7 linked regions of the Homo sapiens genome follow. The protein of the gene in region 3 purifies or fractionates together with the protein of the main gene of each other region. This does not show direct contact. Each region holds a gene or a part of one and is shown on either strand. Other genes may lie near its edges.

Region 1 (4,498 bases), on a different chromosome or scaffold from region 3:
AGGCTGGTGGCTCATGCTTGTAATTCCAGCACTTTGGGAGGCTGAGGCAGGCAGATCACCTGAGGTCAGGAGTTCAAGACCAGCCTGGCCAACATGATAAAACCCCATCTCCACAAAAAAATTAGCCAGGCGTGGTGAGGTGCACCTGTAATCCCAGCTACTTGGGAGGCTGAGGCAGGAGAATTGCTTGAACCTGGGAGACGGAGGTTGCAGTGAGCCGAGATTGTGCCATTGCACTCCAGCCTGGGTGACAGGTGAGACTCCATCTCAGAAACAAACAAACAAACAAAAACTCTCCAGAAAGCAATACAGAGAACAAGCAAATGGAAAATATAAAAGGTTAAAAGACGGGGTTAAAATAAAGACTGAAGTCCTAGAAGGAAAGAAAAAAGAAAATAAAGGAGAGCCAAAGTGCTTAGAGACCTAAGAGCTGAGAATTTTTGAAGCTAAGAAATGAAACCACAGTTATGGGAAGCACAACATATACCAAACAGAATAAATAAATTCATGCACAGTCATGTTATAGTAAAACTGCAAAACACCAAAAGAGAAGATCTTAAAGGACCAAAGAAAAGATACACCACCTACAAAAAAACCACAATCAATAAGAAAGATAGATTTCTCACTGCTATATTAGAAGCTGGAAGAAGAGGGCATACTATCTTCAATGTGATAACCTGGAATGATCAACCTGGAATTTTATGTCCAGAGAAACTATCTTTCAAGGATGATGGTGAAATACAAAGACATTTCAGATAAGCAAAATAGAAACTGCCTCCAACAGACTTTCACTTAAGGAAATTCTACTTTAGGAAGAAGAAAAATGGTGCCAGAAAGGAAGTCTGAGATACAGGAAGGAACGGTGAGCAAAGAAATTCGTAAGCACCTGTGTAAATCTAAACAAGTGCTACCTGTATAAAATAATAATGATGATGATGATATCTAATTTATGAGGCTAAAAAAAAATACTGGACAACTAAAAGAGTGGTTAAAATATTAATATTTAAAATTTAGGTTTTATGTTAATTTTAAATTAATGTATCATGCATGTTAAAATTTCAAGGATAACTTCTAAAAGTACATAACTTCCAAGCCAATAAAGAGGAAAATTGAATTAAAAAATTTTTTAAATAGTTATTATAGCTAGGTGCAGTGTCTCATGCCTGTAGTCTGAGCTACTTGGGAGGCTGAGGCAGGACAATTGTTTGAGCCCTGGAGTTCAAGTCTACAGTGAGCTATGATGGCCCCACTGCATTTCAGCCTGGATAATGGAGCAAGACCCCGCCTGTCTCTTAAAAAAAAAAAGTAACCCCAAAATATGCACAACTATGATCTATCAGTAAAACACCACCAAAAAAACAACCACTTAAAAATTTCTCTATTTAGCTTCGTGACCTCTGTTATGCTGTATAACCTCTGTAAGCCTTAGTTTTCTCATCTTTAATGTGTGGGTAGTAGTAGTACTTCCTTTATAGGGTTGTTGTGAAGATATAATCAGATAATGCATGTAAAAAGCTTAGCACAAATCTAGTACATAATAAGTATTAGCACATATCTAGTATATAATAAGTATTCAATAGACATTAGTAATTAAACGTTACTGCTGTTAGACAATACCAGTGGCTCTCTTATACGTATATTCCCTATACAAAGGGAAGGGGAGCTAACATTTTAAGTGCCTGCTATATGCCAGGCACTATACTAAATGCTTTCTTATATATTGTATCTCATGTAACCCTCATAACAATCTTATGAAAATATATATTGGTGTCTGCATTTTATAGATGAGGACAATGTACTTCAGAAAGTTTAAGTAACATAACCAAGGCACTTAATGACAGTGGGTTTCTATTATACCTCCCATCAAAAGAACTTCAAATTGGCTGGGCACGGTGGCTCACTCCTGTATTCCCAGCACTTTGGGAGACTGAGGCTGGTGGATGACGAGGTCAGGAGTTTGAGACCAGCTTGACCAACATAGTGAAATCCCGTCTCTACTAAAAATACAAAAATTAGCTGGGTGTGGCAGTGCACACCTGTAATCCCAGCTACTCAGGAGGCTGAGGCAGGAGAATCGCTTGAACCTGGGAGGCGGAGGTTGCAGTGAGCCAAGATCACGTCACTGCACTCCAGCCTGGGCGACAGAGCAAGCCTCCATCTCAAAAAAAAGAAAAAAGAACTTCAAATTAATACATATCTAGGAGGATTAAAAGCTCAAATGCTTTTTACTTTTTTCTGACTTATTTTACCCCACTCTGAAATTTTGTGTCATGGAAACAGACTTCAAAAAAGCCAAAATTCTCCTCAAAAATTAAAATTTTGCATGTCAAACCAGGTGCAGTCACTCATGTCTGTAATCCCAACACTTTCGGAGGCCAAGGTGGGAGGATAGCTTGAGGCCAGGAGTTCGAGACCAGCGTAGGCAACATAGCAAGACCTTGTCTCTACAAAAAAATTTTTTTTAAAAACAGCCAGGCATGGTGGCACATACCTGTAGTCCCAGCTACTCAGGAGGCTGAGGTGGAAGGATTGCTTGAGCCCAGGAGGTCAAGGCTGCAGTGAGCCATGATCATGCCACTGCATTTCAGCCTGGGGGAAAAAGCGAGACCCTGTCTCAAAAAAAAAAATTGCACATCATTTATTGACTAACAGCAAACCATGGAAATTCACTAAAGATCTTGAAGTCAGACAGAAAATCATATTTGGGGGTGTTTAAGAGGATTAAAGAAACATCCTCTTACTCTATACTTTGAGTTCATGTAGTATGATGTGAAACGAATCACAACAAAGCGGCCTGTTCTTAGGGTGCCTGCTGGAAGTCAGTATTCCTCTCAAAACATTCTTTCTCTTCTCTTTTCTCCTTTCCTAGGGGTACACATCTTTCTGGAATGACTGCATATCATCAGGCCTGCGAGGGGGCATCCTGATAGAGCTGGCCATGCGGGGTCGAATCTATCTGGAACCCCCGACCATGCGTAAGAAGCGACTACTAGACAGAAAGGTACTGAATCCTCTGTGAACGTCCATGGCTTATGGAAAGGCAAATACCAACAGTACATTTGGGAAGAATAGAAAGATTTGAGTAGTAAGATAAAATAAATATCACTGACTCAGCAGTTCCATTGTCTAAACAGGTTAATTACCCTATTGCAAGAGGGAGAAATCAAAGTATCCATAGTCCAAAGAGTTATAGGAAGCTCCTGGTTTTGTCTTCCTTTTTTATGCAGAAAAATCATACTCAGGATGCTGTTGATTAAATTCCTCCTATATCTATAGCTATAACATTATGAAATAGCCGGGCACAGTGGCTCACGCTTGTAATCCCAGCACTTTGAGAGGCCGAGGCGGGCGGATCATGAGGTCAGGCGATTGAGACCATCCTGGCTAACACGGTGAAATCCCATCTCTACGAGAAATATTTAAAAAAAAAATTAGCGGGGCATTGTGGCGGGCGCCTGTAGTCACAGCTACTCGGGAGGCTGAAGCAGGAGAATGGCGTGAACCCGGAAGGTGGAGCTTGCAGTGAGCCAAGATCCCGCCACTGCACTCCAGCCTGGGGGACAGTGCAAGACTCCGTCTCTAAAAAAAAAAAATTACGAAATAGAGTATGATGTAGGGAGAGGGACTCATATGGGTCAGGTCAGTCATTGATTAACCCTGGTTATTCTCCAATAATATTCTGTTTCCTTCCATTTACTGCAAGTCCTTTCCAACCATACTCCTGTATCCATTTTCTTACTGAATTTTTCCACTCACAACTTCTTTATCATCCTAAGCACTCCACTTAAACTACATTCTTAGGTATCACCAGCTTCTTTTCAGTCTTTGATTTATTTTTCTCTTTTAACCTATATGTGTCATTTGACACTTTTTATCACTTTGAAACTTTCTTCATTATTGGCCTTTGTTATTATCTTATTCTCTTGCTTCTCTGACTATACACTGTTTCCTTACTTCTCCATTTCTTAACATCCAAGTCTCAGTTTGTATCACTTGAGTGATCTTCTGTCCTTTCAGAGATATCATTTACCTTTATAGCTTCGTCTGTCACCTTCATGAGATTAATTTTCAAATTTCTAGGCAGGTCTTGTTTTTCCACCTCCAGAAACATATTTAACTATTGGCTAGAAATTTCAACTTGGCTATCCCATATCATTTAAAACCAAACTTAACAAAAATGAAAGAAAACCAAATTATCAACCTTTCCCCAAAACTGACTTCCTTTTCTGACTTTCCTGCCTTTGTTTATTTATTTATTTATTTATTTAAATTTTTATTTTTTTAATAGAGAAAAGATTTTGCCATTTTGCCCAGGCTGGTCTCAAACTCCTGAGCTCAGGTGATCCACCCGCCTCAGCCTCCCAAAGTGCTAAGATTACAGGCATGAGCCACTGAGCCCAGCTGTTTCCTACCTTTATTAATGGTTTCAAAAGTTGGTTTCCAGACTCAAAATGAGTTGTTATTGAAACTTTTCTCCATTATCATTCATATCCAGTTT
Region 2 (4,498 bases), on a different chromosome or scaffold from region 3:
ATGTTTTTATATAATTTCAGTTGATTTTAAGAATCCCTTTTATGTAGAACTTCGCTATGAGAGCATAACTTTATTACATTTCTTTGGAGGGAAAAATAGTTTTAAAGATATTTTTAATATCTTTAATAATATTAACTACTTTATTATTAAAATTGAGGAAATTTTTCCTGACTAAATGAAATCTTTAATATTTAAACATTAAATTAGAAACAGTAAGTTTTCTTTATATCCTATAGCTTCAGTCTAAAACATCCTGGAAGTCAGATATTTTATTTTCATATAATATAAAGAATAGCCTATATTAAGGTATCTGTTTATTGTACACTAACCTGACTAATAATACACTGAAGTCTACCAAATTGTGATTTTTTTTTCAAGAAAAATGTTTAGGTATCTTGGTGACTAGAAAAGATTAATGCAATTTCTAGTTCCCCAAAATGTATGCTGCTATAATCAAAGAATAACTGACATAGTAAGAAAATTTTATTAAACAATTTATCATAACATTAAAACTTCTTTTTTTTTAAACAGAGTCTTACTCTGTCACTTGGGCTTGAGTGCAGTGGTGTGATCTCAGCTCACTGCAACCTCCGCCTCCCAGGTTCAAGTGATTCTCCTGCCTCAGCTTCCCGAATACCTGGGATTACAGGCACCCGCCACTGTGCCCGGCTAATTTTCGTATTTTTAGTAGAGACGGGGTTTCACCATCTTGGCCAGGCTGGTCTCGAATACCTGACCTCGTGATCTACCTGCCTTAGCCTCCCAAAGTGCTGTGATTACAGGCATGAGCCACTGCGCCCAGACATTTTTTTTTTGTATTTTTAGTAGAGATGGGGTTTCACCATGTTGGCCAGACTGGTCTCGAACTCCTGACCTTGTGATTCGCCTGCCTCAGCCTCCCAAAGTGCTAGGACTACAGGCGTGAGCCACCGCACCCAGCCTAAAAAATTTTTTTAAACTTGATATAATCTCTCCCAATTTTAGGAACACAGAATATAAAGTAAAATCTCAGTTTTACAGAATGAATACTTGAAAAATAATTCCAATAAGGTATCTTTAAGTTGTACTTCCCAAGAAGTAATCACATAAAATAATGCAAATCTTGGCTTAAGATTTTAATAGAAAGCAATCCAGCCTCATACTGTTAATGACAGATCAAGTGAATAATTAGCTATGTCAGTATTTTCTCTCATTTCCTTGAAAGGTTGCAGCTTTGAATAAACATTTTTTATATCACACTCCAATAAGAAAGCTTACAAAAACCAAACATTTGTCACTGGATTTAATTTTTTTTTTTTTTTAACTTTTTAAGAGATGAGGTCTGACGCTGTCACTCAGGCTGGAGTGCAGTGGCACGATCATAGCTCACTGCAGCCTCAAACTCCTGGCCTCAAGTGATTCCCCTGACTTTGTCTCCTAAGTAACTAGGACTATAGGCATGCACCATGGACTTCCAGCTAAGAATTTAAGTTAAAAAAAACATACATATATACGTGTATTAATGTAGACAAACAAACCTGAAACTGTCTTTAAAAACTTTGTTTTGCTATTATGTGAAATTTAAAATTGCTGTCTAAAATATTTATTCACAGGTATATAATAGTAAATATAACCTCTATATAGCAGTTATGTATAATAAAAACAGCTTTTATTCTATTCTTACACAAGATATTTTTAGCTAACCACCACGAGTATGAAAAATAAATTCCAACCACAATTTACCTTGTCCTAAGAGCAAGCCAAGCAGCTTCAATGTCTGCATAGAGGTTCTTCTCTGTGGGTTTCCCGGAACTGGCACCATATCCAGAATAATCATATGAGAATATATTACAATTAATCCGTGATCCTAGTCCTATGTAAAAGCTGCTCATTTGACCAAGATCAACAGCATTTCCATGTGAGAAGAGTAAAGTGTATTTCGCATTGGGTGAACAACGTACAAACATACAAGCAATTCTGTTGCCTTTACTGGTTCTAGTCATGAAACACTCAATAGCATCTTTTTCTCTAGAAGAATACTGCCAGTCTGCTCGTTCAGACAGATGTAAAGTCCAACGGCTTCCGCTTTCATCACACATCAGTGTGTAAGTTGGATCAGGTGGCAAAAACGCTAATTTTGAAGCAATCTTCCCTGGACAAGGTGGACAGCAGAAGAGGCAACATAGCTCACTAAATGAAAGATTATTCATGCTCTGAAAAAGAAAAGGAGATAGCAAATATTTTAATAACTGAATGTAGACTCATACAATAAAAAGTTAAAACACAGACATGGGTAAATTTTATTGGTGGTTAATGACTATTACTATTTTAGGTATGATTCCAAACAGATTTTTGGCTTCTTTTTTTTTTTTGAGACGGAGTTTCACTCTTGTTGCCCAGGCTGGAGTGCAATGGCGCAATCTCAGCTCATCATAACCTACGCCTCCCGGGTTCAAGTGGTTCTCCTGCCTCAGCCTCCTAAGTAGCTGGGATTACAGGCATGCGCCACCACACCCGGTTAATTTTGTATTTTTAGTAGAGATGGGGTTTCTCCATGTTGATCAGATTGGTCTCGAACTCCTGACCTCAGGTGATTCACCCACCTCGGCCTCCCAAAGTGCTGGGATTACAAGGAGTAAGCCACCACGCCCGGCCTTTGGCTTCTTTCTAGAAGTACTTTAAATCCTGGGGTGAGGCAAATATTCCTGACCAGCAGACAGACTCAAATCCTATATGACAGGTTTCAAATAGCAGTGATTATTATCTCATTTAACATAAATGTCAAAAATGATAAAGGTAATATTTGCCATTTCTTTACAAATAACCTGAAGGTATGAAATATCTTTAGTGTAGTCTGTAATTTCTATGTAACTCAGCAAAAGTTCTTAGAACCTCATGGAGAAGCTAGGAATTTAGCATAAAGTGAATACATACTAATAGCATTTATGAAGCTATTTGTCAGGCATTGTGCCAAGTGCTCTATGTGTGTTACTTGGTTTAATTCTCAGAACAACTGTGTAAGTTGTTGTGAGAAAGGAAACTTGCACAAGATGAGGCAGTGGTGGAGCCAGGATTTGACTCCAGGCTGTCACTACACTATGTTACTGGGCTACACTGCCTCACAGATTCAGAACACGCTCAGAAGACTATCACTTTGGTCACAGTGCCAGTGGCCCAAATAACCTATAGAACATTAAAGTGTATGTATGTATGCATGCATGTATGTATGTATGTAATTACTGCCCAAACTAAAAAGGCTATAATATAAAGTTTATTGTGGAAAAAAGGTAAAATCTACTAAAGGTAAACTTTTCTAAATGTTTGGAAGAGAAAGAGTACAAGGTTTAAAGTTAGGAAGCTGGGGTAAAATCCTAACTCTACCACTTACCGTTTGCCAGCTGTATGTCCTTGGGCAAACTATCTCTTTGACTCTCATTTTCTTCATAAGTAAACAAGGCCAATACCTACACTGAAGGACCTGGTTGTGAATATCAAATGTTGGTGTAGTGAAGGCCCATCATACAACATACGGTGAGTGATGGCCATATCATTGTCACACTTTAACTTAGGGACAAAAATAAAGTAATACTTGTTAGTTCTATCAGTATTTCCTTCTATCTTGTCCTTTTTCAAATTCCTGTCTCTTTTTAGCAAAATTAGGCCATTGCTTAGTTCCAGAGAAAAGGCATTTAAAACCAACACCTTACAGGTTTGGTGGCATCCAATTTTCTCCAAAAAGAAAAAAAAAAAATCTAAATATAAGAATAGGGGGAAAAAAGTACCCTATTACACCAAAAATGGGAAGAAAACAACTCAACAGAGTGACTAAATGGTTGAGAATATCTGGGGGAAAAAATGCCCTTTTCACTCAATACAGAATCAAATATATCCTATAATGCTCAGTATAAATGTGTTTATAAGAAGCAGCAGAAAAAAGCACAGGAAGAGAGGAACAAGGGTAGGTATAACATAAAAGACTTCAAAAGGTGAGGGAAGGGCAGAAAAACATCTTGGATATTAGGAAATGCTTTAATTGCTTCCTACCTTTATTTCTTTTTAGGCTTCAAAATACAGCCTGAATAAGTTAATGGCTTACTCTGGTTGGAACAAGAAATAGGACAGAAATAACAACTAAGTGTCATCTGCTAACTTTAACTGAGGGCTTCCTGAAGTGTTGTGCTGAGAATGATTCTAAGGCATACACAGGGCTTAGCCAGCAAAAGATGTGATAAATTAGTGATGTTTACTATAGACTCTGGCTACAAATTTACTATCCTGGTCAGGAGGATAAAGTGTCTGTTGAAGAAGATGAAAGGGAAGGAACTCAAAGGATCTGTTCCAGAGGAGGAAATGACCTGCAGAAAGATGATGAGGTACAAGGTATAATATCAGTGCTGTCTGTTTAATATCTGTCTATGGTTATTTGTCAACCCTGATTACCTCATATACCATTGACTGCTGAGCCACAATAGCCTTTTAAAAAGCTTAATAAGTAAATGGTACGTATCTAGACTATAGT
Region 3 (4,498 bases):
TCTTAAAAGGACCCTCGTGACTCCATTGAGCCCACCCAGACAATCCAGGATAACCACCCCTTCTCAAGATCCTTTACTTAATCTCACCTGCAAAGTCCCTTTTGCCATGGAAGGTCACCTCTTCACAGGTTCAGGGGATTAAGATGTGGACATCACCGGGGGTCATGATTCTGATTGCTACAGGGTCTGAGAAGCTAGAGAGTAAGTGTGTCCAGTGGTGGAGAGAAGCCTTGAATGCCGAGCTAAGGAGCCTGGACTTGGCCTTTCCTTCAAAATAGATGCATGACCTGTCAGCCTCTCACCACCTCAGCTCTGTTACCCTGATCCAAATCGCTATCACCTCCTGCTTGGACCATTACAGTAGCCTCCTCTCTGGGATCTTCACTGCCCCTACACCATACTCTCACCTCCACCAGCAACCAGAGGGATCCTATTAAAATCTTTTGGCCGGGTGCGGTGGCTCACGCCTGTAATCCCAGCACTTTGGGAGGCTGAGGCGGGTGGATCACCAGGTCAGGAGATCAAGACCATCCTGGCTAACAAGGTGAAACCCCTTCTCTACTAAAAATACAAAAATTAGCTGGGCATGGTGGCGGGCGCCTGTAGTCCCAGCTACTCAGGAGGCTGAGGCAGGAGAATGGCGTGAACTCAGGAGGCGGAGCTTGCAGTGAGCCGAGATTGTGCCACTGCACTCCAGCCTGGGCGACAGAGCGAGACTCCATCTCAAAAAAATAAATAAATAAATAGAATCTTTTATTTATTTATTTTTTGAGACGGAGTCTCGCTCTGTCGCCCAGGCTGGAGTGCAGGGGCTCAATCTTGGCTCACTGTCACCTCTGCCTCCCGGGTTCAAAACGATTCTTCTGCCTCAGCCTCCCAAGTAGCTGGGACTACAGGCATGCGCCACCATGCCCGGCTAATTTTTGTATTTTTAGTAGAGACAGGGTTTCACCATATTGGCTAGGCTGGTCTTGAAGTCCTGACCTCAAGTGATCTACCTGCCTCAGCCTCCCAAAGCCCTGGAATTACAGGCGTGAGCCACCGCAAATGGCCCTATATATCTTTGTTTATAGTCTGTCTTCCTCCACTAGAAGAATATCAGCTCCCTGAGGGCAGGATTTGTGTCTGTTTTGGTCACTGCTATATCTCTAGTGCCTAAAAAGGCCTTGCACATAGCAAGTGCATGATGGATATCTGTTGAATGAAGGAAGGAATAAAATGAAGACATCATTGAGCTCCTGGATCCAGCTATGCCTGAAGCCAGTCTTGTGAAATGAGATAAGAAGATACACACCCACAATGTCTCTCCAGCCTACACCTCCATCTCCGAGACCAGGTCATGGCTGGTGGATTTCTTGCTGTCCACACTTTCGTCCTGGCCCTGGGACTCCCTCAGGGCCCAGTGACAGGCAGCTGGCAGTGACCGGCGGAGTTGAGCCCTCCCAAAATACAGGAAGAGCATGGGATTGAGGCAGCTGTGAGCGAGGGCAAGGCCCACGATGAGGGGTTCAGCCCGCAGGGCCCTGGCCAGGAGTGCGGAGTTCGGGGCCGCCACAGTGAGCACCAGCCCCAGCAGGTGGTAGGGTGCCCAGCAGACAAAAAACCCCACCACAATGGCTGTGCCCAGCGGCCGGCAGCGTCGGGCTGCCCAGCACAGGAGGGCACTGTGGCAGCTGGCCACGGCCACCAGGGGCCCCAGGAAGCCAAAAAGAAACCGGATGGCAGTCACCGCATTCTCGGTGCTGGAGGAGCCGCCGTAGTCCACCACACACTGCAGCCGGGCTGGGAAGTGCTCCTGGTGCAGCCGGCGGTAGATGGCGGAGGGCACGGTGAGCAGCAAGGCCAGTGTCCAGGCTGCCCCACAGGCCACCTGCACCCCGCACGCCCGCTGAACCGTAGACCACCAGGCAGGCCCGAGAGCCAGGAAGCAGAGGTCGGCACTGAGAGCTGCCAGGAGCAGGACGCTGGCATACATGGTCAGCAGGATGATGGAGGGCAGCGCCCGACAGCCCACTGCACCATACGGCCAGTGGCCTCCACGGGCAATGGGCACTGCCAGGATGGGCAGAGACAAACAGCACAGCAAATCCGCCACGGCCAGGTGGAGCAACCAGGTGGCACCCACCCTCCGGCGGGCCACCTTCCCAGCCACCCAGGCCACCATGGCATTGCCCGGCACCCCCACCAGGAAGATGGCGGCATACAGTGGGAGCGGGGCCACGCGCAGCGGGTCGATGGCCAGGCAGGCGCCATCCAGGCAGTCCACAGGGCGGTCCGAGAGGTCGCTGTAATCCCCATACTCGTAGCTGACAGAATCGTTCCCCATTCAGGCTCCTGGTGTCTGGGCAGGAGAGAAAGACGATGAAAACTCAGAGGAGGAAACTCCATGGCCCTGGAGATCTAGGGTGTCCATCAGCCCGGCCCACCAGCACCTTGCAAACTGGAATATTGCGTCATAAGGACTCCAGTGCTTTAGAATATTGGAATTCTAGGCCGGGTGTGGTGGCTCACACCTGTAATCTTAACACTTTGGGAGGCCAAGACAGGTGGATCACTTGAGGTCAGGAATTCAAGACAGGCCAACATGGTGAAACACCGTCTCTACTAAAAATACAAAAATTAGCTGGGTGTGGTGGCGGGCACCTGTAATCCCAGCTACTTGGGAGGCTGAGAATTTCTTGAACCCAGAAGGTGGAGGTGGCAGTGAGCTGAGCTCACACCACTGCACTCCAGCCTGGGAGACAGAGTGAGACTCCATCTCAAAAAAAAAAAAAAAAAATTGGAATTCTAGAACTTAGTGTTGTTAGAAGTGGCATCTTGGAATTCTAGAATATTACAATGCCAGAACCCTAGTACATTGGAATATTGGGGCTGGGCACGGTGGTTCAGGCCTGTAATCCCAACGATTTGAGAGGCCAAGGTGGGAAGATCACTTGAGGTCAGGAGTTCTAGACCAGCCTGGGCAACATAGGGAGACCCCATCTCTACGAAAATTTTTTAAAACATAGCCAGGCATGGTCATGCGTGCCTGTGATCCTAGCTGCCGAAAAGGCTGAAGTGGGAGAATCATTTGAGCCCAGGAGATTGAGTGAGCTTGATCATACCCCTGCACTCCAGCCAGGATGACAGAGAGAGACTCTGTCTCAAAAAATAAAAAAAAATAGGAAAAGAAAGAAAGAAATGAGCAAAATCCAAAATCCACAGTATTTTAGAAGATAATAAATACTATGGGAAAAATATCACACAGGGAAGCTGGCTATGTTGGAGTTGTACAGGCATGGTCAGGGAAGGCTTCTTGAGAAGGTGACATTTGCATAAAAATCTGAAGGAACAGTGGGAGAGATGCATCGAGATCTGGGGGAAGAGTGTTTCAGGCATCGAGAACAGCCAGTGCAAAGGCCCTGAGGTGGGAACATGACGGTCATGTCCAAGAACAGCAAGGAGCCCAGTGTGGCTGGAGTGGAATCTGCCAGAGGGAGAGGGTGAGAGGCAATAGCAGAGTCATCAGGGGCCGGGCACAGTGGCTCATGCCAGTAATCACGGGAATTTGGGAGGCCAAGGTGGGTGGATCACCTGAGGTCAGGAGTTTGAGACCAGCCTGGCCAACATGGTGAAACCCCATCTCTCCTAAAAACACAAAAATAACCTGGAGTGATGGTGGACGCCTGTAATCCCAGCTACTCAGGAGGCTGAGGCAGGAGGGATCACTTGAACCAGGGAGGCGGAGGTTGCTGTGAGCTGAGATCATGCCAGTGCACTCCAGCCTGGGCAACAGAGCAAGACTCCATCTCAAAAAAAGAAAAAAACAAAACAAAACAAAACAAATGAAAAACAGTTATCAGGGGCCACGGCATGTAGGGCCACGTGGGCAACGCAAGGACATCATCATTTATTCCAAATGAGACAGGTGCTATAGGAGGGTGCTGAGCAAGGAAGCGACATAATCTATCATAGCAATAATTTATTTTTTTTGAGACAGAGTTTTGCTCTGTTGCCCAGGCTGGAGTGTGGTGGCATGATCTCGGCTCACTGCAACCTCCGCCTCCTGGGTTCAAGCAATTCTCCTGCCTCAGCCTCCCAAGTAGCTGAGATTACAGGTACATGCCACCACACCTGGCTAATTTTTGTATTTTTAGTAGAGATGGGGTTTCACCATGTTAGCCAGGCTGGTGTCGAACTCCTGACCTCAGGTGATCCACCTGCCTCAGCCTCCCAAAGTGCTGGGATTACAGGCGTGAGCCACCATGTCGGGCCACAATAATATTATTACTATATTATTACTATTTTTTGAGACAGGGTCTGGCTCTGTAGCCCAGACTGGACTGCAGCGGCACTTTCCCAGCTCACTGCAGCCTCCATCTCCTGGGCTCAAGCAACCCTCCACCTCACCCTCCCAAGTAGCTAGGACTACAGGTGCACACCATCATGCCTGATTAATTATTATTATTATTATTATTATTATTATTATTTTGGAGGTCATCTGGTTTCACCATGTTGC
Region 4 (3,397 bases), on a different chromosome or scaffold from region 3:
AAGTAATTCTCCTGCCTTAGCCTCCTGAGCTGGGATTACAGGCACACACCATCATGCCTGGCTAGTTTTTGTATTTTTAGTAGAGAAGGGGTTTCACCATGTTGGCCAAGCTAGTCTCGAACTCCTGACCTCAAGTGCTCCGCCCATCTCGGCCTCCCAAAGTGCTGGAATTGTAGGTGTGAGCCACCACGGCCAGAACCCCTCCCCCGCTTTTTTTTGAGACAAGGTCTTGCTCTGTCACCCAGGCTGGAGAGCAGTGGTGCCATCATAGTTCACTGCAGCCTCAACCTCTTGGGCTCAAGTAATCCTCCTGCCTTGGCCTCCTGAGTAGCTGGGACTACAGGTGTGTGCCACCAGGCCTGGCTCATTTGTAGAGATGAGGTCTCTTTATGTTTCCCAGGCTGTCTGGAACTCCTGGCTCAAGCAGCCCTCCCACCTTGGCTTCCCAAAGGGCAGGGATTACAGGCATGAGCCCCGACACCAGCCCCTCTGCCCCTTTTATCCTTTCCCATGACCCCTCCAAGTAGCCATAGCCCTGCCCAGGCCCGTCTGTGATTTGGACTCTAGGAGACATTGAGTTTGGACAACACTGGCTACCTTCCTTTCCTTATCTTCTCTGTAGACTCCCTGCCCTCGGACCCTGTACAGCCGCAGTATGGGGCATGGCTCAGCCTGGTGGACCGTGCCCAGGTGAAGGCTTTTGTGGATCTAACCCTCTCACCCTCCGTGCGCCAGGGGGCTCAGCATCTGCTGCGAATCTCCGGCCTCGGTGAGCTGCTTCTCCCTGGATGCCCTCGGCCTTCCTCTGTGGCCACTTCAAATCTCCGCTCCCCTCCCCTAGAGAGTCAGCCACAGATTGCAAACTGCAAAAGGACCTTATAGTCGAGAGGAGATAAGACAGTGCTCAAAGATAATAGCCTCAGACAGTGTGTGATAAGGTCTAATAGGAGATGCTAGGGACTAGTGATGGGGTGGGCGATGTTGTGGGTTTTTTTTCCTTCTTCTTTTTTTTTTTTTTTTTTGAGACGGAGTCTCACTCTGTCTTGCCCAGGCTGGAGTACAGTGGCACGATCTTGGCTCACTGCCTCCTCCACCTCCCAGGTTCAAGTGATTCTCCTGTCTTAGCCTCCCAAATATCTGGGACTATAGGCATGTGCTACCATACCTGGCTAATTTTTGTATTTTTAGTAGAGATGGGGGTTTCACCATGTTGCCCAGGCCAGTGTCGAGCTCCTGACCTCAGGTGATCTACCCGCCTCGGCCTCCCAAAGTGCTGGGATTACAGGCATGTACCACTGTGCCCAGCCTTTCCTTCTTTTTTTTTCTGATCCAAAAATTGGGGCATAGGCACTGAAGAGTGTATTTTTGGAGACAATGGAGCATTATTTGAATCTCCAGCTGCCTCATCAAATCAGATGGTTTTTAACCACCAGTGTTCAGAGGAAGGCAGGCCAGCCACTATACACTGATGTGGCCAGCAAAGGTTTTGCGGAGAGATGGTAATTCATCCAGACTTTGAAAGAGGTTGGGATGTAGGAGATGTAACATGTCTCCCCTGCCCCCGCCACCCAAAGCCACAAAGGATGCCGGAGGCTGTGTGGGGCGGACGTCTGTGGATGGAGCGGTAAATTCTCAGCTTTTAGCGCTGAGGCCACCAGGGTTATCTATGCTCAGTCACTGCCTTTTCCCTTAATCCTGGACCAGTGCCCGTCACCAAAGTGCATGCTTCCTTCTCTATTCAGAGTCTGGCTAAAGTTCAACAGTGTTGGACATTGCCCAGTTCAGTGTAAATCAGAACCCTGGGAAATACTGAGGAGGGGGCATGACTAGTTTATTTTGCAAGATCAGCTGGAATTCACACCTGCGGAGATGTTTTGGGGTGTCGTCAAGCATCATTGACCCACAGAACATCTGAGAGCCTGGTCTTCACTTTTTGTGCAGAGACCACAATGCTTATGAAATACGAAATTTTTCCTGTGGAAGATATCAGGTCGGTGCAAAAGCAATTGCGGTTTTTGCCTTTTTTTTTTTTTTTTTTTGGACAGGGTCTCACTCTGTTGCCCAGGCTGGAGTGCAGTGGCACAATGTCAGCTCACTGCAACCTCTGCCTCCCGGGTTCAAGTATTCTCCCATCTCAGCCTCCCAAGTAGCTGGGACTACAGATATACGCCAGCATTGTCCGGCTAATTTTTGTATATTTTTGGTAGAGACGGGGTTTCACCATATTGCCCAGGCTGATCTCGAACTTCCAACCTCAGGTGATCCGCCTGCCTCAGCCTCCCAAAGTGCTGGGATGCCATTTTAATGGGGGAAAAAAAGAACCACAATTACTTTTGCACCAACCTATTCCAATAAAAGGAAAAGTAGTTCCTTTAAATGGTGGATTCTCCTGTCATAGAAAATTTGATTTATGGCTTGAGCAGTGTTTGTTTCATGAGAAGGGGTCTTGGAAGAGGTCTCTGCGTCTCCCTGTAAACTCAGCAATTATCCGATTCCACAAGGGTTGTTCAAAAATTAAGAACGAAGAGCTTGTCAGCAGGGACTTGGAGCATTGTGGTTGCCACGTGCCCAGCTCGGTGGCTCAGAGTGTGGCCTCTCACGCTGGATGGAGGCGGATTGCGTTGACCTACCTGCCCCAGTACCTACCAGATATGAGCCTATGGGCAAGTGACTTCATCCCTTGGTGCTTTGGGCTCCTTATCAGTAAAAAGAGGAGACTAAATATTACCTACCTCATAGCATTACTTCGAGTTTCAAATAAGTTAAAATATAAAGTGCTTTCTACAGGACATAGCCCCTGGTAAGCGGATACCATGCAATGAACCACCATGATTAGGGTTTTGGTAAAACCTACTAGGGTTAGGGTTTACTGCAGTAAACATACGGGGTAGCCCTGTTTCTTTTTTTCTTTTTTTTTGAGATGGAGTCTCGCTCTGTTGCCCAGGCTGGAGTGCAGTGGCGTGATCTCGGCTTACTACAACCACCACCTTCCGGGTTCAGGCAATTCTCATGTCTCAGCCTCCTGAGTAGCTGGGATTATAGATGCCCACCACAATGCCCGGCTAATTTTTGTATTTTTAGTAGAGATAGCATTTCACCGTATTGGCCAGGCTGGTCTCAAACTCCTGATCTCAGGTGATCAACGTGCCTCAGCTTCCCAAGATGCTGCGATTACAGGTGTGAGCCACGGTGCCCTGCCTGGTCCATTTTTTCATCTTCCCATTGCAGAGTCTGGGACGCTATTACCCTGGGGATTCAGGTCATGAGCTTGGCTGATCAGGGTGTCTGGTTTGCACAACAGAGTCAAACTCGCATCCCCTGCCGTGAAACAGATGCCCCGCTAGAAGCCGGGAGTGGACAGCATCCTCCTCTCCATAGAATTGGAGTGCTCATTAGT
Region 5 (4,498 bases), on a different chromosome or scaffold from region 3:
GATGCATGGTACACAGGAATGCACACACACAGATGCACAGTACACACGAATGCACACACAGCACATACACACATGCAGGGTACACATGAATGCACACACACAGATGCACAGTACACACGAATGCACACACAGCACATACACACATGCAGGGTACACATGAATGCACACACACAGATGCACAGTACACACGAATGCACACACAGCACATACACACATGCAGGGTACACATGAATGCACACACAGCACACACAGATGCACAGTACACATGAATGCACACAGTACACACAGATGCACAGTACACACGAATGCACACACAGCAGAGATGCATGGTACACACAAATGCACACACACAGGCACAGTACACATGAATGCACACAGCACACATAGATGCAGGGTACACATGAATGCACGCACACAGATGCACGGTACACACACATGCACACACTCGGATGCACAGTACACATGCATGCACACACACAAATGGACGGTACACACGAACGCACACACAGCACATACCGATGCATGGTACACACGAACGCACACACAGCACACACAGATGCACTGTACACACGAATGCACACAGCACACAGATACACAGTACACATGAATGCACACACCACTCGTGCACACACACACACGGCACACACCACCCACGGACACATACACAGCACGCACAGGTCACACATACAGCCTCTTTCAGGGACGCTGAAGATGCTCAGAAAGAAAAAGCAAACACTGCAAACCAAGAGCCGAGAACAAGCGTGGCATGAGCAGTGGACGGCCCTGGGCCCACCTGCCAGCACTTCCTGGGCTGCCGTTTCGAAACTGCTCGGAAGTGAAGAGCGACAGGAGCGAGGGTTCTGTTCCACATGCTGCCAGCAGGCCTGAGGCTCACAGTGAGAGTGGACGTGTGTCCAGCACACATGACAAAAATCTGACCCAGACACACGCCTGGGACAAAACCCCGCTTCGCTCCAGGAGCCTGGGTTTTCCTCCCTCTGCCTCCGTCCCTGCCCATGGGCCTCAGAAATTGCAGCCTGCGAGTCCTTCTCTGGTGTAGCTGGTGGTGGTGTCCAACATCCACGACGGAGTTTCCAAAACCTCCTGCAGCCCAAGCTGCTCAGGGCCTGGGTGCAGCAGCAGGCGTGGGGCCCAGCCCTGCCAGAGCTCAGCCAAAGGTGTCTCTCTCCACAGAGACACTCACCAGAACAGGGTTCACCTAATTCACCTGCGGGATCTTACCAAACTTAGACAGAATGTCTTGCTGCTCCTCCCGGCTGGAAAACAGGATTTTGGGGTTCAGCCCCCTCATGCTCGAGTTCTCCCATGGTGGGGCTTCCCGGCTCGGCCTGTCCCTGGGCTCCACCTCCACTTCCAGGTTCACTTGAAATAAATCCGGGTATTTTTCTTGAATGTCACACGCGTCCAGGTCATACCTGCGGTTACAAGTAGACACCACTTAGGAAGGCCACCCAAGTAGTCTGTAAGTCCTTGGACATTCACTAAAGAAACGTGCATGGAAACAGGTGGCAGCTGCAGGCAGCGGGGCGAGAACAACCAGGGCAGCCGGCCACCCCCGCCTGCGGAAGCTGGAGCCCTGTGAGCTGACCCAGCAGCTGTCCCAGGAACCCACAGGGCACCAGCACCCCCGGTCACGGCCCCAGAAGAGCATCATTTCACTCGCTCCTCGGACGTCACAGTGGGGATGCCCGCGACTGTGTTCAAGGCAGAGGGGCACCGGGCGGGGCCGCCATGTTTCCTGCAACTCCAGGGGAGGCCACGTGCTCAGAGCAGACGGGACAACATCCCACAGCTGGAGACTCCGGCACCCAGGCAGGCAGCTCTGAGGTGGGACCCCAGGGTTCCAAGGCAGGCGCTGGCCCTCACTACCCAGCACACACAGACTGCAGCCACCCGGCAGCTCAGAGCACGCACTCTGGGATACTAAATGTGTTTTCCATAAAAATGACGACGTCCGCCCTGACAAAAATCCACAACTGTCAACAGATGCCCATAAAACCAAGACCTCTAGAATCCGGCTGCCAGGGAATTGGGAACATGATTCCGGGGGAAACAAAGCTGTGTTCACTGTGGGGCTGGGGAGGCAGCCCAGGCTGAGCTGTGGGGAGCAGGGCAGAGGTCAGCAGGGCCTGCCTTGGGGTGTCGGCCGTGCGGGTGGGGAGCAGGGCAGGGGTCAGCAGGGCCCACCTTGGGGTGTCGGCCATGTGGGTGGGGAGCAGGGGCAGGGGTCAGCAGGGCCCGCCTTGGGGTGTTGGCCGCACGGGGAGGCAGGTGTGACCTGACACTGACCATTTCCCAGCCCCACAGCTCTCTAAGGAATTCCAGGCTATTTCACACATTTCCTATGATCATCTCTGATCCCACTGTCATAAACTGCACTGATAAGCCTGGGCTCTCCAGCGGGCAGCAGGCTCCCCATGCCTGTCTTATTTTACGCCACCTAAAATCTCTACATGTTGAATGTTATACACCTAAGAAAATAAAGAAGAAACACAAAAGAGTGGCGGCCAGTTCCTGGGAAACCCAGGCTGCCAGTGTCTGCAGGGCCAGGAACACCCAGAGCAGAGTGGGATCCGCCGAGGGAGGGCAGGGAGACGGGCCCGGCGGCCTGTGTGGGTCAGAGCCACGGCTGGTTTTAACTGTCACTTCTCTGAGCTCCACACATGCCTGTGATGTGTGAAAGGCCTCTAGTTCACCCCTTCCTGCTCACCCTCTAAAACATCCTCTCCCTGCACGAGGGGAGAGCACCCTGTGCCCGCCCTGAGGGGTGGCCAACCTCACGCAGAGCAGCGCCCCCTCAATGCCCACTCAAGGCTCTGGGCGGAGGTGGCCACGGCCGAAGCCGGGACTGATGTGCACTCCAGCCGGGGCCAACACGAGCTTCCCCCTGCGCCCGAGCCTCTTTGCGTGCCGCTGTCTGTCGTCAGGGGTGGCAGGGACTGCACAGCGGTGGCACAGCTGGCGTGGAGATGTGGAGGAGGCAACGTCTGCAGAGGAGCCTGCAGGCACCAGCAGAGAATCCGACGGCCACCGCAGCGGAGGCTCAGACCGGCCACGACCGAGGGCGGAGAGGCACAGTGGGAGGGGCACGGAGGGAGGGAGTGTGCAGGGAGCCAGGTCGGCCAGACGGGCTTGGGTCCTGGGACAGACCGAACTTGGGCAGCCCCAGAGGGAGTGCCGCTCATGCCCAGCCTCCCTCCCCCAGCTGCCCCTTGAGATGGCCCTGGGCACTGGGCCTGCAGGCTCGGCTCACCCAGCCTGGCGCTGAGGGCACAATGAGGTCTGTGAGCAGGGCTGGCCACTCCCGAGAGCCCTGGACTGCAGAGGACACTGCCCGCAGGCTCCTGCCAGACTAGCTCCAACAGGGCAGAGCGGACTCCTGACAGGCTCAGCTGTTACATCTGTGCCATGGCTGCAACCCTGTGCTCCTCTCGCCCAGGCACGGCGCAGGCTCACCACGCAGGGAACACGCCTCTCGCCCAGGCACGGCGCAGGCTCACCACGCAGGGAACACGCCTCTCGCCCAGGCACGGCGCAGGCTCACCACGCAGGGAACACGCCTCTCGCCCACAGCGCAGCCTTGATCTCGCAGGTTCAAGCAATCCTCCTGCCTCCCAAAGTGTTGGAATTACAGCTGTAAGCCACTGTGCGCAACCAACCTTTCTTCCTTTTAATGTATGCATTTGAAGTTACACATTTCCTCTAAACCCTGCTTCAGATGCACCCCACACATCTGGTAAGTGGTATTTTGATTATCAATGTGTTTAAAATATTTTCTCATTTCAACAGTGATTTCCTTTTTGGCACACAGGTCACTTAACGAGCATACGGTCTCTGGGTGTTTTCCTGTCACTGATTCCCACTTTAATCCACTGTTGAGATGCCTTGAGACTTGCTGTATGACCCAACGTGGAGTCCACTTTAATAAACGCCCACTTGAACAGATGCCATTTCTCCAAGTATTCGCTGAAGTTTGCAAAACTCAGGTCAAGTTGGTTAAACCTTGTAAAAAAAAAAAAACTATATCCTGTTCTTGTCTACCTGTTCCACTGCCTGGGGAGAGAGGCGGCCATCAGCGTGGGCCTGTCAACTTCACCCCTCCTTCTGCCCTTTGTGCTGCCTGTACTGAAGCCATGTCACTGCCCTCGCCCCTGCAACGTCACCCGTCACCTCCTGCCTTGGTCTATCCCACCTGATATGGACAGTGACACCAGCCTTCTTCCTGTTATGGTCTGCATGGTAAGCAATTTCCAATTATTCCACTTCAGCCTTGCTAGGTCTTCGTGTGCAAGGGTTTTGAAGTATGGCTCCTGTAAGCAGTATAGACTTGAGTTTTGTGTGAGCTTGGTTTTTAATCCAGCCCGATTAACTGGAGTGTGTCTTCTATCCACCTTCAATGGGATGACTGACAGGCACAGCAGGGCGTCGGTCTACCAGCTGGCTGTTTTCTATCTATATCCCACCTGGGTTTGTTTGT
Region 6 (4,498 bases), about 39 Mb from region 3:
GGAAGCTTTGGGAACGGAAGTGGGTGTTGAGGTCTGGGAGCTGCTCCTGCAGGGGTGGGAGGCCGGGTGGGCACAGTGAGGGGGACGCCCTCCCACCGGGGGGTGCTGGGCCTCAGTGTCCCCGCCTCCAGGGAGCCTTCCTGGACCTGCGCTGGGCAGCCTGAGGCTCCCTTCCTGGTGCTCCCTCAGCACTCTGTCTGAGGGAGGCCGAAGCACCCCCGAGCTTTGAGTAGCACGGGGTGGGGGACAGGCAGGGATGGCAAGATCTGTAGCCGCCTGTGTTGGGGGCCCACCCTGGGTAGGTGATGCGCCCGTGGCAGCTCATGGGGTCCTCACGACAGCCTGAGAGGGTGTGTCTGAGGCTGGGGGAGTTGGGTCACTCCCCACAGACACCCTGAGACCCAGAGGTGGAGCATGGGCAAGTGGCAGCCTCTGGCCCTGGGGGGAGCCCCCCCCCCACCTTGTTACGTGACCTGCCAGCCACTGTACCTCCCTTGGACCCCAGCATAAAGCTTTGTGCAAGCTGTGTTGGATTGGCCTGAACTCTAGACAGCCAGAAAGTGGCAGACGGCTGGGGAAACTGAGGCCGGAGAAGGCGTTAGGATCCCGGGCTTCCTCCCAGCGCCAGGGGCTCTCTGCGCCCTGAGTTTGCAAGCTTGGCTGTGGGAGGGCTCTGCTACCCAGCCTGAGGTGGGGTGGTGCCTTCTCTGCAGCCCAGGCCTCCTGCTTGTGGCACTACCAGGCCCCCTAAGGCTACAGCACCGTCCATGATCCAGGCCCAGGGAGTGGGGCTGTCACATCCAGGGATGACTGCACAGCCCCACCTGCCATGGCAGCTGAGGCGGGCCGGTGTGTGTGTGTGTGTCTGCGTGTGTGTGTATGCATGCGGGTGTGTGTATGTTCGCAAACGGCCTTGGCGGCTCTGCCTGCCAGCCGGGAGCAGGCCCTGCGGGGGCTGCTATTTATAAACAGACGTCTGCGGCTCTCCAGTAATCAGGCAGGCAGACAACACTCCCTCCTTCCACCACACTCTGGAGCAGACAGGGAGGTGGCTGTGGCTGTGTCCGATGTGAGCCTGCCCCACCCCTCTGCCTCAGCAGCCCTGGGAGCCCCCCTTCAGTGGTGGCTCTCCTGTTCCTCCAAGCATCCTTCAGGGCAGTGCTGCATGGAAAGAGGAGTGCCTTTTGGAGTTGGAACGTCCAGGTGTGATTTCACAGGCTTGGAATTTTCAGTCCAAGAGGTGCCCGGGTATGGTCTAGGGTGCCAGCCCTGCCCTTCTGCGATCCTGCTCCCTTGCGGCCCTGCCCACCTGTGGCCCTGCCCTCCTGCAGCCCTGCTCTCCTGCGGCCCTGCTCACCTGCAGCATGTACTCGAACTGATAGATGCAGAGCCCGAGCTCGGCCATGCTGGGTTTGAAGAGCTCCCGCAGCCGGTACTCCTGCATCAGCCGCACGAACACACAGAAGGCCTCCTCCTCAGGCATCTAGGGGGGACGGGCAGGTGGGGGGGCTCAGGGCAGCGCAGCGGGGAGGGGCATCTCGCTGCTCATCAGGGCCCTGGGGTACAGGGGCCCATGTCCATGTCGGTACCTGGCTCCCTAGACTCTCATGACACACTGTTGGTCCCTGTGTCCTCACAAGCTGTTTTACTGATGGAAGACCTGAGGCTGAGGTCACCTGCCAAGGGCCACTCGGCAGGAAACAGGGGAGCTGGACCTGAACCCAGGGCTGGCCACTGCCAGCATCCCCCTGGTTAGGATACCTCCTGTCCCAGCTGCGTCCTCTCTCCCTGTCAGCCTCCCGATTTCTCTGGAGGAGACCCCCAAGCCCCATAAACACCACGCTGGATGGCTTAAGTCCCCAGCCTGAGGTTCCTGTCCAACCCTGAGATGTGGCAGAGAGAGACAGCCTATCCCTCCAAACCCGGTCTCTGTCCTGGATGGTACAGCAGACAGGACCCAACCAGACAGGTGCCACTCACTGGGCCTTGGCCTGGCGATTGGCAGAGGTCACGGGTGTGGATGGAGAAGGAGGATCTACCCCTAGCAAGACGCTGGGTGGAGGACACGCCACTTCTGTCCATCTCTTGGGGGCCGAGCCCAGGGTGGGCTGTTGTCTGGCAGGAGCCCAGCCACCCCCCAGCCACCTACCTGCATGAGGAGCAGGCCCACGATGAAGGCGCTTCCCTGGCAGTAGCCCACCTCCCGGTCTACCAGCGAGTATGCCTAGAAGGGAACAAGTCCTGAGAGCAGGGTCCCGCCGTCCAGCACAGCCGGTGAACTGGGGAACTTCTCCTTCCTTTGGGACCGAGGGAGCGGGGAGCCCTGGGCCTCACCTTCATGACGTTGAAGAGGACCTCCTGGCCCAGGCTGTCCTGGCCCTTGAAGAACTCATGTTCCGGGTAGGTGCGGGCGATGTCCCTGCGGATCAGCTTCTCGCACGGCGAGGACATCTTGAGCAGCTCGGAGTACTGGTTCTTGACGGGCATGTCCGTGGCGCTGCACAGAAGCTGCCACACGATGGCCCGGAAGTGGTGGGGGATGCCCTTGCGGATCAGCTCCTGGCCACGGGAGCGGGAAGCGGGGGCTGGACTCGGTCCCAGCGCAGCCTCCCCGTGGCCACCCAGCCCAGCTCCTCAGGCGTGGCTCATCCAGGCCTCAAGCATGGCACAGAACTCATGGTCCCCAATCCTTTTTTTACCCCCTTTTTTCAGAGACAGGGTCTCCCTCTGTCACCCAGGCTGGAGTGCAGTGGTGCGATCATAGCTCCCTGCAGCCTTGAACTCCTGGGCTCAAGCGATCCTCCTGCCTCAGCTTCCTGAGTAGCTGGGACTACAGTTGTGCACCACCACGCCTGGCTAATTTTTAAACTTTTTTTTTTTTTGAGATGGAGTCTCACTCTGTTGCCCACGCCGGAGTGCAGTGGCGTGATCTTGGCTCACTGCTACCTCTTGCCTCCCAGGTTCAAGTGATTCTCCTGCCTCAGCCTCCCAAGTAGCTGGGATTACAGGTGCACGCCACCACGCCCAGCTAATTTTTGTATTTTTAGTAGAGTCGGAGTTTCGCCATGTTGGCCAGGCTGGTCTTGAACTCCTGACCTTAGGTGATCTGCCTGCCTCGACCTTCCAACGAACTGGGATTACAGGCGTGAGCCACTGCGCCCGGCCTACCTGGCTAATTTTTAAACTTTTTATAGAGTCGGAGTCTCATTACGTTGCCCAGGCTGGCCTCGAACTCCTGGCCTCAAGCGATCCTCCCACCTTGGCCGCCCAAAGTGCTGAGATTCCAGGCGTGAGCCACCACACCCCCATCCTTCATGGGCACTACAGGGCAGCAAGCACATGGGCACTCGAGGGTGCAGGGCCTGTCCAGCACCACCCTGACTCACTCTCTCCTGTCCCTGTGCTCTGGCAGGACACCCTGAAAGTGCCTGCACATCTCCACTGCTGCCGCTGTGCCCAGGCTGGGGCCCCGCAGACCCTGGCGCTGCCTGGTGGCTGAGTGACCGCACCACCTGCCCACGCCGTCGGCCCAGCCCTGCCTGCCTGGCCGCCCCCCACCTTGAGCAGCTTCTCCTTCCTGCGCCGCCACTCCTCCCACTCGTTGGCGATCCGGCCCCACAGGATCCACGTGTCCTCCTCCAGGTGGCTCAGGTTGGAGGAGGCCGAGGAGCTGGACACTAGCGAGGAGCCACTGTTCCGCCGCGAGCCATTCATGGAGCGCATGGACTTGGAGTCGGCCTCCAGGAGCCTGGGCAGGAAGGGCCGACAGAGGGGAACCAGTGACTCCCTGGGGACAGGGATCCTTGGCGAGCCCAGCCCATCCTCCCCCTCCTGGGGGTCTTAGAGGACACCAGGGATTAGGTCCCTCTTGTTCTTTTTTTTTTCTTCTTCTTTGAGATGGAGTCTTGCTCTGTCGCCCAGGCTGGAGTGCAGTGGTGTGATCTCAGCTCACTGCAACCTCTGCCTCCTGGTTCAAGCAATTCTCCTGCTTCAGCCTCCTGAGTAGCTGGGATTACAGGTGCATGCCACCACACCTGGCTAACTTTATATTTGTAGTAAATATGGGGTTTCACCATGTTGGTCGGGCTGGTCTCGAACTCCTGACCTCAGGTGATCCACCTGCCTCAGCCTCCTAAACTGCTGGGATTACAGGCTTGAGCCACTGCCCTCAGCGCCCCCTTTTTTTTGAGACGGAGTTTTGCTCTTGTTGCCCAGACTGGAGTGCAGTGGCGTGATCTTGGCTCACTGCAGCGTCCGCCTCCCGGGTTCAAGTGATTCTCCTGCCTCAGGCTCCCAAGTAGCTGAGATTACAGGCACCCACCACCATGCCCAGCTAATTTTTGTGTTTTTAGTAGAGACAGGATTTCACCATGTTGGCCAGGCTGGTCTCAAACACCTGACCTCAAGTGATCCGTCTGCCTCGGCCTCCCAAAGTGTTCGGTGGTGTGAGCCACCACGTCCAGCCTAAAACCTGCATTTTAAATGGGGGTAGGGTCAG
Region 7 (4,498 bases), on a different chromosome or scaffold from region 3:
ACTGTATAAGGTGTAACTATAAGTATTTAACCTTACAAATTCCTCAAGAAGATAGGCAGAAAATAGGAAAGAAAAGGGCAAAAATAGGCCGGGTGCAGTGGCCCACCTGAGGTACAGAGTTCAAGACCAGCCTGGCCAACATGATGAAACCCTGTCTCTACTAAAAATACAAAAAATTAGCTGGGCGCGGTGGTGGGCGCCTGTAATCCCAGCTACTCAGGAGGCTAAGACAGGAGAATTGCTTGAACCCAGAGGCAGAGGTTACAGTGAACCAAGATCGCACCACTGCAGTCCAGCCTGGGCAACAAGAGCAAAACTCCATCTCAAAAAAAAAAAAGAAACAAAAGAAAAGGACAAAAATACCCAACAGTGGAAAGGAGGCAGCAAAGTTAACTGCACAGATCACATCTCAGTCAGAGAGCAGTATGTGAAGGAGGGAAAAAGCCTCTAATCACTTGACTCAGATATACGTTGGAGATGCTAGAGATCCAACTCCGTGTTCCAAAAACCTGTGTTCCCAGAGACCACTACTGCAGTGTCAGTTCACACAGATCTTATAACACGAGTAAACACTTCCAGATAATGACACTGATGGAAAAATAGCATACAATAGGGAAGCTCTATTTCTAAAAACTTTACTGTTTACCTGGAATCACACCTTTATTCTGGAACAAAAAGAAAACTGCTAAACAGAAGCAGATACTGTTATAACTCTTCCTTAAGATAAGCTTTATAGGCAGTGTTTAACTAGTTTAACTAGTGCTAGACAGCAGGCACTGTTTGTTTTTGCCTGGGAGGAAAAGAAATGCTTTTAGCAGAGATGAAGGTTGAATGATTATCACCATTCAGGATTTACCTTGTTCAGGGATTGTTAGGGAGCGATCAAATCGGAAAGGTAAAGATGAAATGCTTTTCCTGTTTCTTGATTTTTATCTACCAGCAATAATATGAGGCACACTCGTAAAGTAAAGGTTTGCATTATATTTACAATTAAACTCTAGAAAAGCATAATTCTGAGCTAAATATTCTGCCTAAAGAATCTCTTTCACATAATCCTTCCTGGTCACTTGCTCCTTGCACTCACAATTTGTTTCTTAATTCCTATGCTTTTTATCCCTTTCTATACAAGGATTTGTCCAAAAAAAAGTATACTCCCTTACCAGAACGCAACCTCCTGCAGGGGCCACATCTTACTCACCTTGTGTCTCTGTCAGCACTCAGCATTGGGCTTTGACCACAGCTCACCTTCGATTAATAAAAATTATAAATCAAGGCCGGGTGCAGTGGCTTACATCTGTAATCCCAGCACTTTGGGAGGCCAAGGTGGGCAGATTACTTGAGGTCAGGAGTTGGAGACCAGCCTGGCCAACATGGCGAAACCCCGTCTCTATTAAAAATACAAAAATTGGCCAGGCGCGGTGGCTCATGCCTGTAATCCCAGAACTTTGGGAGGCTGAGGTGGAGGTCAGGAGATCGAGACCATCCTGGCTAACACTTGGTGAAACCACATCTCTACTAAAAATACAAAAAATTAGCTGGGTGTGGTGGTGGGCGCCTGTAGTCCCAGCTGAGGCAGAAGAATGGCGTGAACCTGGGAGGTGGAGCTTGCAGTGAGCCGAGACTGTGCCACTGCACTCCAGCCTAGGCCACAGGGCGAGACTCCATCTCAAAAAAATAAAAAATAAAAAAAACAAAAATTAGCCGGGCGTGGCACAAAAATAATCCCATCTACTCGGGAAGCTGAGGCAGGAGAATTGCTTGAACCCAGGGGGCAGAGGTTGCAGTGGGGCAGAGGTCGCATAGAGCTGAGATCGCACCACTGCACTCCAGCCTGGGTGACAGAGCAAGATTCCGTCTCAAAAAAAAAAAATTATAAATCAAAACAGGTTTCTGCTTTAGGTGACAACAGATGAAATCAAGCTCAACCAACTTCTACCTATAACTCATATAATCCTAGATATAGTGGAGCAAAGACGGAAATGGGACCATCAATAGCTCTGCCACTGACTTCCCCTGCAAAATTGAATAAATCAAGAATGAACAAAGCCATAAATATCTAGGATCAGGAACTTTGTACTATGGCCGAGTCCCATCAGTTTTCCCTGACAGCCAGTATTAGATAATCATTTACAGCCATAGCCACCATGCATCTGTATGCAAAACCCTCACATTGTAACATTGGAATTGGCTTTATATGAAAGCTACAATTACAGCCTCTCATCTCCTCTCATTCTATATAAAAGAGTGGGATCTACAAAGCCATACACGGAAACTGGTCATTTCAACCTTGCCTAACAGGGGTTCTTTTCTCATGCTTTTTAAGGAAGGAGCAGGAATAGAAATTCTCGGAGTCCTTATCAGTAAGTAATGATCAGGAATGTTCCATTGATGCTGCTATAAACCTCTAGCATAACAGCAAGGTGACAAAGAATTTTCTAAAATCAGTCCCAAATAGCAGGAAAGAAACACTTAGCTCAGGATGAGTTCAAGAACCAAAAATGGGCTGAGTTGTGCTGATTTAGGTCAGAAACAGGGTCAAAGTTGCCTCTTTCAGAGATGAGAATTAGATATAACAAGTAATTGGCTGGGCACAGTAGCTCATGCCTGTAACCCCAGCACTTTGGGAGGCCGAGGCGGGTGGATCACTTGAGGTCAGGAGCTTGAGACCAGCCTGGTCAATATGGTGAAATCCCATCCCTACTAAAAATACAAAAATTAGCCAGGTGTGGTGGTGGGTGCCTGTAATCCCAGCTACTTGAGAGGCTGAGGCAGGAGAATCGCTTGAACCCGGAAAGCAGAGGTTGCAGTGAGCAGAGACTGTGCCACTGCACTCTAGCCTGGGCGTCAGAGGGAGACTCCATCTCAAAAAAAAAACACGAATTGCCAGCTCTTAGCACTGTCCAGTGGAACCTTCTTTGCGATGGAAATGTTCCACATCTGTGCTGCCCAGTGTAGCAGACATCAGCCACATGTGGCTGCTGAGCACTTGAAATGTGGCTAGCATGACTGAGGAAATGAATTTTAAATTGTGTTTAATTTTAATCTCAATGTAAACTGCCAAATATGGCTAGTGGTGACCAAACCGGAACTGTAGCTCTAGATTCCCTAAATTAGGGACTTTCAATGACAGGCAATTCCCTCTACCCCTTGGGGGACAACTGCCCCCATCTTGAGACATTTCTTATTGTTACAACTGGGTGTAGGGAGTGCGACTAGCATCTACTGAGCAGAGGTCTGGGACACTGCTAAGCATGCTGCCATGCACAGGCCAGCCCCCATAACAGCAAATTATCTGACCCAAAATATCACTAGTGCTGACGCTGAGAAACTGCTTTAAGTTTGCTCAAGGACAGAATTAAAGTAAATGCAAACAAACTGCAGTATACCTTGCCTAAACATAATACCCAGGAAGAATGAGATCTTTTAACCAACAGAAAAAGGTCTGGGCTATTCTACAAGTTTAGAGTAGCAGGTTTTGGCCTGGCACGGTGGCTCACGCTTATAATCCCAGCACTTTGGGAGGCTAAGGCAAGAGGATGGCTTCAGCCCAGGAGGTTGGGACCAGCCTGGGCAATATAGTGAGACCTTGTCTCGAGAACAAAAAAATTGTTTTAATTAGCTCAGTGTGGGGGTGAGTGCCTGTAGTCCCAGCTACTCAGGAGGCTGAGGCGCGAGGATCACTTGAGCCCTGGAGACGGACGTTGCAGTGAGCCGAGATTGTACCACGGCTCTCCAGCCTGGGTGACAGAGAGAGATCCTGTCTCAAAAATAATAATAATATAACAGGTTTTTACTGGAAGGTGTGTTTAATAACTTAAAATCTTCATCATTATAGTGATTACTTCCTGTGGCATTTTCCTTATTGAATATTAACATAAGTACACACTGTGAGACTCTGCTACAGGGCCTTGTTCCTTATGCCTTGGACATACAGTGGGGGGCAGGGGCAAAGCCCCTACTCCTACTCTCCTAAGTTTGAATTTCCTTTGCCTCCTCAATTAACCCATCTGATTTATTGGGACATCACTGATCTCAGATACAAGAAAACTGATACTGTTGTGGAAGAAAAGCAAATCGTGACGAGAAAATGGCTCTGTTATCACAGGTCTGCACGTTTACATAACAGAAAAAGCAAGGGACAGAACTATATTTGGACCAAATCCAAATCACTGAGTGATTCTACTAAATGATGATCGCATACTACATTTTGTTTTTGTTTTTTCACATACATTTTAAAGTGAGAGATATTATTTTAAATTTTAGAGGGTGAGCATCAAATAACATTGTGGTTTCTGTAATCAGTATAAATTATGCAACAATCAGTTTAAATGGGATCATTTACAACTGCTCACATAGCTCTTGAGTTTATATTAACAATGTAGAATTTAACGCAGGATAGTCTATTCCTCAAAGAAACAGGAATAATGAACACAATTAAATGTTTCACTTTGACCCAGACTATTTTTCAGAACATAAAGTCATCAACATTCATATTACA

The links.
Region 1: the proteins of C5AR2 (region 3) and GOLPH3L purify together in Homo sapiens (affinity purification with mass spectrometry; 2 studies listed by BioGRID and IntAct, with this or other methods). This does not show direct contact.
Region 2: the proteins of C5AR2 (region 3) and ABHD17B purify together in Homo sapiens (affinity purification with mass spectrometry; 2 studies listed by BioGRID and IntAct, with this or other methods). This does not show direct contact.
Region 4: the proteins of C5AR2 (region 3) and SLC12A9 purify together in Homo sapiens (affinity purification with mass spectrometry; 2 studies listed by BioGRID and IntAct, with this or other methods). This does not show direct contact.
Region 5: the proteins of C5AR2 (region 3) and GAK purify together in Homo sapiens (affinity purification with mass spectrometry; 2 studies listed by BioGRID and IntAct, with this or other methods). This does not show direct contact.
Region 6: the proteins of C5AR2 (region 3) and EVI5L purify together in Homo sapiens (affinity purification with mass spectrometry; 2 studies listed by BioGRID and IntAct, with this or other methods). This does not show direct contact.
Region 7: the proteins of C5AR2 (region 3) and PDXDC1 purify together in Homo sapiens (affinity purification with mass spectrometry; 2 studies listed by BioGRID and IntAct, with this or other methods). This does not show direct contact.

The regions. Positions count from the first base shown.
Region 1 is NC_000001.11:150,662,135-150,666,632, reverse strand, and holds part of GOLPH3L (Golgi phosphoprotein 3-like), read left to right. Parts: intron 1-2,869; coding exon 2,870-3,001; intron 3,002-4,498. UniProt on the Homo sapiens protein: Phosphatidylinositol-4-phosphate-binding protein that may antagonize the action of GOLPH3 which is required for the process of vesicle budding at the Golgi and anterograde transport to the plasma membrane.
Region 2 is NC_000009.12:71,872,892-71,877,389, forward strand, and holds part of ABHD17B (alpha/beta hydrolase domain-containing protein 17B), read right to left. Parts: intron 2,193-4,498; 5' UTR 2,190-2,192; coding exon 1,723-2,189; intron 1-1,722. UniProt on the Homo sapiens protein: Hydrolyzes fatty acids from S-acylated cysteine residues in proteins. Has depalmitoylating activity towards DLG4/PSD95. Has depalmitoylating activity towards GAP43. Has depalmitoylating activity towards MAP6. Has depalmitoylating activity towards NRAS.
Region 3 is NC_000019.10:47,338,628-47,343,125, reverse strand, and holds part of C5AR2 (C5a anaphylatoxin chemotactic receptor 2), read right to left. Parts: intron 2,640-4,498; exon of another isoform or gene 2,514-2,639; intron 2,342-2,513; 5' UTR 2,327-2,341; coding exon 1,313-2,326; 3' UTR 1-1,312.
Region 4 is NC_000007.14:100,862,059-100,865,455, forward strand, and holds part of SLC12A9 (solute carrier family 12 member 9), read left to right. Parts: intron 1-622; coding exon 623-769; intron 770-3,228; coding exon of another isoform or gene 3,229-3,266; exon of another isoform or gene 3,267-3,301; coding exon of another isoform or gene 3,302-3,327; exon of another isoform or gene 3,328-3,397. UniProt on the Homo sapiens protein: May be an inhibitor of SLC12A1. Seems to correspond to a subunit of a multimeric transport system and thus, additional subunits may be required for its function. May play a role in lysosomal ion flux and osmoregulation.
Region 5 is NC_000004.12:869,469-873,966, forward strand, and holds part of GAK (cyclin-G-associated kinase), read right to left. Parts: exon of another isoform or gene 3,833-4,498; intron 3,758-3,832; exon of another isoform or gene 3,600-3,757; intron 1,437-3,599; coding exon 1,243-1,436; intron 1-1,242. UniProt on the Homo sapiens protein: Associates with cyclin G and CDK5. Seems to act as an auxilin homolog that is involved in the uncoating of clathrin-coated vesicles by Hsc70 in non-neuronal cells. Expression oscillates slightly during the cell cycle, peaking at G1.
Region 6 is NC_000019.10:7,846,982-7,851,479, reverse strand, and holds part of EVI5L (EVI5-like protein), read right to left. Parts: intron 3,749-4,498; coding exon 3,559-3,748; intron 2,560-3,558; coding exon 2,335-2,559; intron 2,225-2,334; coding exon 2,150-2,224; intron 1,484-2,149; coding exon 1,358-1,483; intron 47-1,357; coding exon 1-46. UniProt on the Homo sapiens protein: Functions as a GTPase-activating protein (GAP) with a broad specificity.
Region 7 is NC_000016.10:14,977,674-14,982,171, reverse strand, and holds part of PDXDC1 (pyridoxal-dependent decarboxylase domain-containing protein 1), read right to left. Parts: intron 1,290-4,498; exon of another isoform or gene 1,199-1,289; intron 1-1,198.